2 separate regions of the Homo sapiens genome follow, and region 1 is linked to region 2. The links come from fine-mapping of genetic effects on gene expression. Tissue or cell type: gastroesophageal junction. Region 2 holds a variant in brackets; the other region holds the start of a gene. All regions are shown on one strand. Distances are from middle to middle. Region 1 holds the start of C6 (complement C6). Region 2 overlaps C6 (complement C6).

What was found. PIP is the estimated chance that this variant, and not a neighbour inherited with it, causes the effect. A credible set is the group of variants that fine-mapping cannot tell apart.
Region 1: it holds the start of C6, and the variant in region 2 is the best candidate, but not a certain one, in a credible set for the expression of C6 in gastroesophageal junction (GTEx, PIP 0.56).

What each region holds. Positions count from the first base shown.
Region 1 is chr5:41,211,500-41,215,499 of GRCh38, reverse strand. C6 (complement C6) reads left to right here and starts at 1,968. Exons shown (of 18, transcript NM_000065.5): 1 at 1,968-2,124.
Region 2 is chr5:41,185,958-41,189,957 of GRCh38, reverse strand. It overlaps C6 (complement C6), which reads left to right. Exons shown (of 18, transcript NM_000065.5): 6 at 3,750-3,888. Among named protein-coding and RNA genes, the nearest start is that of C6, 26 kb to the left of the region's middle. The variant C/T (reference allele first, on the strand shown) is at 1,769.

The DNA of each region.
Region 1 (4,000 bases), 26 kb before region 2:
AGCAGCACACATCTAAATATTGTTTAGAGAACACCTATATTCTTTGCATGCACAGAGTCAGACCTGAGCACAACTGCACACAAGTATTCAATTCCTAGCTCTGAAACAATCACCTACTCATCAGTCCCAATTAGCCTACTTCTACTTCCCAAAGCCACTGGACACTTTGTTGTATGTATCAGACCAGAAATATTTCTCTCTGGGTTGCAACTTTTCCTATAAGGGCCAGACGGTAAATATTTTAGGCTTTTCAGGCTGGAGAGCCTCTGTTGCCAGCTTCTTAACTCTACCATTGTAGCACAAAAGCAACCATAAACAATGGCCAATTGTGTGACTTTATTCCTATAAAACGTTATTTACAAAAACGGGCATCAGGCTAGTTTACCAATCCCTGCTCTAGAAAAAGGACTCATGAGTGAGATATGTCATTTAACCTTCCAAAAGAACCCAAGATGGAGAACCCAAATACATTGTTGAAAAGATTCTAGATTCTTAGTTGGTGCTGGGTCAATTCTAGTGTTTGGATCACAGACATTCGCATTCCATCTCAAGGATTTCCCCTTACCATCCTTAACTCTCTCCACCTGTGTTTTTCCAGTGCCACAGCATACAATCTTACTTCTCTGTCCTCTTCATAGCCCACATTACAAATAAAGTCCTCTTTAAGCTCATCCTACTGGCACCTAACTTTGCATCTCTCTGTATTATGACTTCCAGTATTTGCCTTTAGCTCCAAACACCTTGAACTCAGGACAAATGAATTTTATTTTAGGACCTCAAAGACCAATTAAAGAAAGAAATATGCAAATTAAATGACATATATTCTTGTCCAATCACCAAATATTTCTTTTCCTGTTTATCTTCTCAGGTAATCAAGGGTGAAGCTGCTATCCCAGCCCCAAACTAGCTTCAACACTGGTCTGCAGCACACCACTCTACTTTCTCTTTAGGCCCAAATTTCAATCTTTAAAATCTCAATGTAGTATAAGAGAGAGAAAAAAGACTGGAAATCAGATCATCTGTATTCCAGTTCTGACTTACTCTGGCCTTGGGAAAGTTACTACCATGTATATTAAACTATGTGACCTTTGAGTGGTGGGTTCCCAGCTGTGTTTCAAGTAATCTTTAGACTTGCTGAGATCATCATTTCCCACCATGTGATAAAAATCTAAGCTGTCTAAGGAATATTTGTTTTAGTTGTTTTCTACTGCTTTGAAAAAAGTTTGAAAAACACTTGTTTTACAAATGAGGGACCAGTGTTCCAATGAGGTATAGTGATTTATTGAAGCTCACATAGCTGGTAGCTGCTTAGTGCAGAAACAAGACTAGAATATGTATCCACATTCTCAGTCCCTATAGTTTTTTTTCTTTTCTATTGCACTATTTTGTTCTGCTTCACCTTAGGATGAAATCCATTTTACTTCAATCTAAAGTTAAATTGCAACCATTTCAGAGAAGCGTAATCATCATTACATATAAAGAGCCCATTTGATCATTGCTATTTTAATTCTTTCCAAATTAAATTTTCTGTTTGGTTTTGCTGGCATATAGAAACACTTTTTACTATAATAAACTTGTGTTGATAAATCATACTAAATTCATTTATTAATTCTAATGTTTGTAGATTCTTTTGAATTTTCTACATACACAATCACATTGTCTCCAAAAACATTTCTTAAATAGTTACCAATAACTATTCTATAATCAAAAACTAAGAATCTATACATTCCTAAGGGGGGCAGCAATTTTAAGCAATTAATCTAAAGGATTCTTTAAAATGGAAAGAGAGATTTCTATGCAGTAGCAATAGCTACTACAATAGCCCTTGAATTGAAAACTCACTGAAAATTCAGGACTCTGTGTAACATCCAACACCCAGAGTTTCAGGGTTACTACTGATTGGTGTAATCATTTGCAAAGTTCAAGTTCCAGAGAACATTTATTTTGACAACCCTCTAGGTGTTGCTAGGCTTCTGGGATATGACAGCATTGCCTTGTGTTAGCTAGCAATAAGAAAAGAAGCTTTGTTTGGATTAACATATATACCCTCTTCATTCTGCATACCTATTTTTTCCCCAATAATTTGCAGCTTAGGTCCGAGGACACCACAAACTCTGCTTAAAGGTGAGTAATATGATGATTTCATTTTCAATCTTAATATTTCAAAATTGTTAATCATGTTTCCAACAAAATTACAATTTCATGCATAAAAATATGTAACTCAGACTATAACCATTTCTTTGTCTTTCTTTTTTATAATTGCTTTGTTTAAATCTGAAAAGAACCAGAGGTCATGTTTTTTAAACAAATGTCATTCCAGAGGACATTTGAGATCAAGTTTCTCTATGAGTTAAATTAGTTAAAAGTAAAGCAAACATACTCTTTAGCCAAGGTCAGTCATGCACCTGGACTACCCAGCTTACCTTGGCGATAGTAAAGGTAGAAAGATAGAAAGGCTCATTTCTTGAGCCTCTGGGCATGCACAGAAAAAAATAATAAGAAATAAGAAATTCAGTAAGTTTACATGGAGATGTAAAGGAAGAACCTATAGCTGGGGATAAACTAGAGCATCCTCAGAAATCTGTTGGGTAAGATATGCTGAACTGCCTTGCAGACAAATGGTTCATGTGAGTAAAATACATTAGAAAGTGACAGGTTAGAATAAGATGGGCTTCATTTTAATTGAAATTCTCTAAATGCTCATAAAGCTATCATCAATGGTTCAATGGGATCACTGATTTTTGGAAAACTCAAGAGGGGATGGCAACTATGAGAAAACTGAAGAATTTCTGCTTTTCTACGATGGCACTGAAGTGGAAGACTTTTTTCCTATCTTCCTCTATTGACCGAACATTCTTTTATTCTATGTTTGTATGAAAATTGTACAGTAATGGGTAAAATGCCTGTGTGTAATTTTAGATACCTCCAGAATGCCTAGAGATGTGGAAATTAATAAATAAGAAACCATATAATACAATATGCTAGGCCATCATAACAAAAAAATTCAGAGAAGTAATTATTTTTATTTGATTAAAAATTGTTGCTGGGCTTGGTGGCTCACGCTTGTAATCCCAGCACTTTGGGAGGCCGAGGCAGGTGAATCACAAGGTCAGGAGTTCAAGACGAGCCTGACCAAAATGGTGAAACCCCGAGTTCACTAAAAATACAAAAATTAGCTGGGTGTGGTGGCAGGGGCCTGTAATCCCAGCTACTCGGGAGGCTGAGGCAGAGAATTGCTTGAACCCAGGAGGCTGAGTTTATAGTGAGCTGAGATCCTGCCACTGCAGTCCAGCCTGGGTGAAAGAATGAAACTCTGTCTCAAAAAAATAAATAAATAAAAATAAAATTGTTTTAACATAAAACAATTTGTATTCCTAATAATAGAATATTAAAAAAGAAAAGCTACCAATTAGCTCTTTCATTAGTACCTCATCAAATAAGTTTTAATGTTACCATCTTAATTTATATCAGGCTCCATATTGCCTCAGAACAGTTATAGCTTAAAGAGCGATCAGAATATTTTATAAGGGTTCTGTTTTTGCAGTTTTTGATGATAATTGGAATAAAACTCACCCATACCTTTCAAGCTTTTGGAAGTTAAAAGACAGTGTCTGCTGAGAACTGAGAATTAGTAATCTCTTGCAATTTAACTTCTCCAAATTATTTACATGAAAATTTCACCAGAAGCTTTAAGAATTTGTTTTCTCTACAATTGAGGAAATATTCTGGAAGATATCTGTCTTGTCCAACATCTAATAAGAAAAAAAAACAACAACAAAGTATCTATTTAGTTTTTCTTGCTGAAAAGGTCCCTGTATGAGAAAATTCCAATTTTGGCAGTGGGGGGCAAGGGTGAAGGGTATAGGGGAGTGGCTTCTCTAGTCTATCTAGTGGTTGAAAGGAAAGCTTCACATTATTTGGGAGCCTCAGCTCCCAAATGTTTGGGACTCACATTATATGTCTGATCACGACTTAAATTCTATCTGGCTACTATTGTCCC
Region 2 (4,000 bases):
AGCCATAAAATAGAATGAAACCTTGTCACTGGAGAAACATGGATGATCCTGGAGGATATTAAGTGAAATAAGCCAGAAACAAAAACATAAATACTACATGTTCTCACTCACATGCAGAAGCTTAAAAAGTTGATCTCATACAAGTAGATTAGAATAAGGGTTACAAGAGACTGGAAAGAGTAGGGGAAGGGGAGGATAGGAAGAGATTGGTTAAAGGTTACAAAATTACAGCTAGATAAGAGGAATAAGTTCTAGTGTTCTATAGCATTGCAGGTGACTATAGTTAACAATAATTTAGTACATATTTTCAAATACCGAGAAGAGAAAATTTTGAATATTCCCAACATGTTTGAGGTGATGAATATGCTAATTACCCTGATTTTATTACTATACATTGTATGTATCTAAACATCACTACGTACCCCATAAATATGTACAATTATGTGACAATTTTTAAAAATGTAATATTAAAAATCACCCATATAAAGCATATGTTAATACTTCATTCCATTGTATGAGAGAATAACAACCCATTGTATCATTCTATCACATTGTGTTGATTCATTCATCAGCTAATGAACATTTGGTTTGTTCCTACTTTGACTAGTATGAGTAATGCTGCTATGAACATTCATGTACAAGTTTTTGCATTGATATATATTTTCAATTCTCTTTCATATATACTTAGGAATGGAATTGCAGGGTCTTATGGTAATTATACATTTAATTTTTGAAGAACTCCCAACTATTTTCCAAAACAGCTGCACCATTTTTCATTTCCCCCAGTTACATATGATTGAAAATCAACTTCTCCACACCTTCATCAAAACTGTTTCTGTTCATCTTTTGGTTAAAGCTATTCTAATGGCTATGAACTGGTATCTCATCGCAGGTTTGATTTGTATTTCCTAATGACTAATAACTTTGAGCATTTTTTCACATGCTTATTAGTCATTTTCATATTTTTTCAAAGAACTATATATTTAGATACTCAAATTATTTGCTCATGGTTTAATTGAGTAATTTGGTTTTTTTATTTAGTTCCAAGCATTTTTTGTATATTCTGGGTGTAAGTTCCTCATTAGATATGTGACTTGGAAATATTTTCTCCCATTATATGAGTTGTATTTTCACTTTTTTGTTGGTGTCCTTTAAAGCACTAAAGTTTTTAATTCTGGTGGAGTTCAATATATTTATTTCTTCTTTTGTTGAATGTGCTTTTAATGTCATATCTAAGAAGGCTTTGTCTTACTGGAGTTCACAAATATTTAGTCCTATATTGTCTTCTAAAAGTTCTATAGTTTCAGCTCTTAAATTTAGGTTCTATTATCTATTTTGATTAATTTTTTTGCATTATGTGAGAAAGGGGCCCAATTTCATTCATTTGCAATATAACCATTAGGTCATTACAGCACCATTCATTTAGGACTATTTTCCCCATTGAACTGTCTTGGCACCCTTGTTGAAAATCAATTGACCATAGATGTATGGGTTTATTTCTAGATGCATTTCTGTTCCATTGATCTATATGTCTGTCTATCCTCATGCCAGTACTACTACACTGTCTTGATGACCCTAATTTTGAAGTAAATTGTGTATCAGGAAGGTAATTCCTTGAACTTTGTCCTTCTTTCTCACGATTCTCTTGGCTGTTCTGGGTCTTTTGAATTTTAGAATTGTCTTGTGAATTTTTACCAAAAAAAGGCAGCTGAGATTTTGATAATGATTGTCTTGAATCTATAAATCAATTTGGGAAGTACTGCTATCT[C/T]AACAACACAAATTCTGCCAATCCACTAATATGGAATGTCTTTCTATTCATTGAGATTTCACTTAATATCTTTCAACATTGTTTATACTTTTCAGTATATGAGTCTTAGACTTCTTTTGTTAAATAAATACCTGAGGATTTTATTCTTTGAGAGGCTATTATAAATGGAATTGTTTCTGTAATTTTATTTTTGGATTGTTCATTGCTATTTGTAGGGAAATACATTTGATTTTTGTTTGTTGATTTTGTTTCTGCAAGCAATTACTTTTGAACTTAGTATGCAACCTTTTAATAAAATTAAAATATACTTTCCCTGGTGGAAAAAATGGGAGAGATAGTATGTATTGTTTCCTTTCATAGGGCAGGCCAGGCCTGTGCTAGTCACTATTAATTTCCACAACTACTATAAAAAAGCAATTAGCTCCATTTTCAAGTGAAGAAACCATTTCAGAAACTTAAAAGCTGTGTGTGTGTGTGTGTGTGTGTGTGTATGTGTGTGTCTGTGTACTTTTACATTAACACAATTTTATTGGTAGAGAATTTACAAGTATTTATATTAGCCTTACTTTCTTTTCAGTATTCTAACATCACTTTACAACTTTCAAACTATCCTTGCTCCTCTTTGATAGAAAAATATTGTGCCCCTTGGTTAGAAGCGCCTGAGTAATTGGTCGAATTTTCTGCTTTAAATCCAAATGTCTAATAGATCGCAAAAGCCTCCCATAGTGAACTGCTTCTTGATTCCCTCACAAATGAATGAGTCTATTTGTCTTTTTTTCAGATCTTTGTGATAGTTACAAAACTTAATATTTCAGCTCTGGTAAAGGTGGTGCCTTTCAGGTACATTTTGTCTTGTGAGTTAATGCCATAGAAGTACAAGGGAAACAGACATGTAAGTGGTCAATGACATTCTTGAGGATGTTTAGAGTTCCCTTGAGCCCCCACAACTATCAGAAGGGATGGGTGTACTGAAGGGTCATGAGAAGGGAAGGGCATTGGTGCTATTCCTTCTGCTACATGGAATTTTCCAGTGATATTCTGTAGAACTACACTACATGTTCTATGAAAGACAAGGTTATTTGGTCAAATGTACTTGGAGACTGACAATTTATATTTTTAAGGCTGTGACATGACCTGTAGAAAACGATTTTTATAATCTATGTAATACAGCATTACCAAACTGTTTGACAAAAAAACTACTTTTTTCACAGAATACATATTAATATCTCTTAGAATTTGGAAAAGCATTAGCATCTTGGAGAAGTTTTTTTATCTATAACAAAATAACCTCTTAAATAGTTGATTTATGCTAAGCTAATTAATCTCTATGTGCCTCAATGTCCTCATTTGTAAAACAGGTATAATAATTATATCTACATCATATGGTTGTAATAAATATAAGTTATTATTAGTAAAGTACTTAACCAAGTTAATATTTGTAAAGCACTTACTATTGCTTGGCTTATAGTAAATAGTATATAAGCATTTGTTAAATAAAATATATTTTAAATATTATAGTCAGTTATTAGTAAAACTATAATATTATTACAATTCCATTAAAATATTGCTGTTACTATTTTATTATGAGCTCTCTATTAGAATTCCACTCAGAAAGAAGTAGACCTGGGATAGCATTTATTATATAATAACTTATTTCATAATCTGCTTCCAAACTTTGCACTGGCTTTGTAAGTCATAAAAAATTATAAATCCAGATTTTGTTGTATGTTGAAAGCCAAGAACAATTAAGTAAGTGGAATAGGAGAACCTAATAGAGCCAGAGAAGCTGAGTTTGGGCTTTCCAGCTTCCTTGCATGCCTCACCATGGACTAGGAAAAAAAAGCGGAGGTGTGGGGGATTCCTTCAAGTCATTTGTCTTGAGGCAAAAAGGTTTAGAAGAGGAATTCCTTTCATATAACTAAGGTAAATTTTAAAGATTGTTCTACATCTGTTGAATTCCTGAAAATTACTTTGTTTCTAGGTTTCATTTTCTGGCAGGAGAGCCCAGAGGAGAAGTCCTTGATAACTCTTTCACTGGAGGAATATGTAAAACTGTCAAAAGCAGTAGGACAAGTAATCCATACCGTGTTCCGGCCAATCTGGAAAATGTCGGCTTTGAGGTATGACAGCCTAGCATGGTGGCAACTCCAACACCGTCAGTGATTATAAGCTAAATTTCTCATGCAAAATTAGTGATGAATGAAGGGACAGAATAAAAAGGTGGTGAACCAT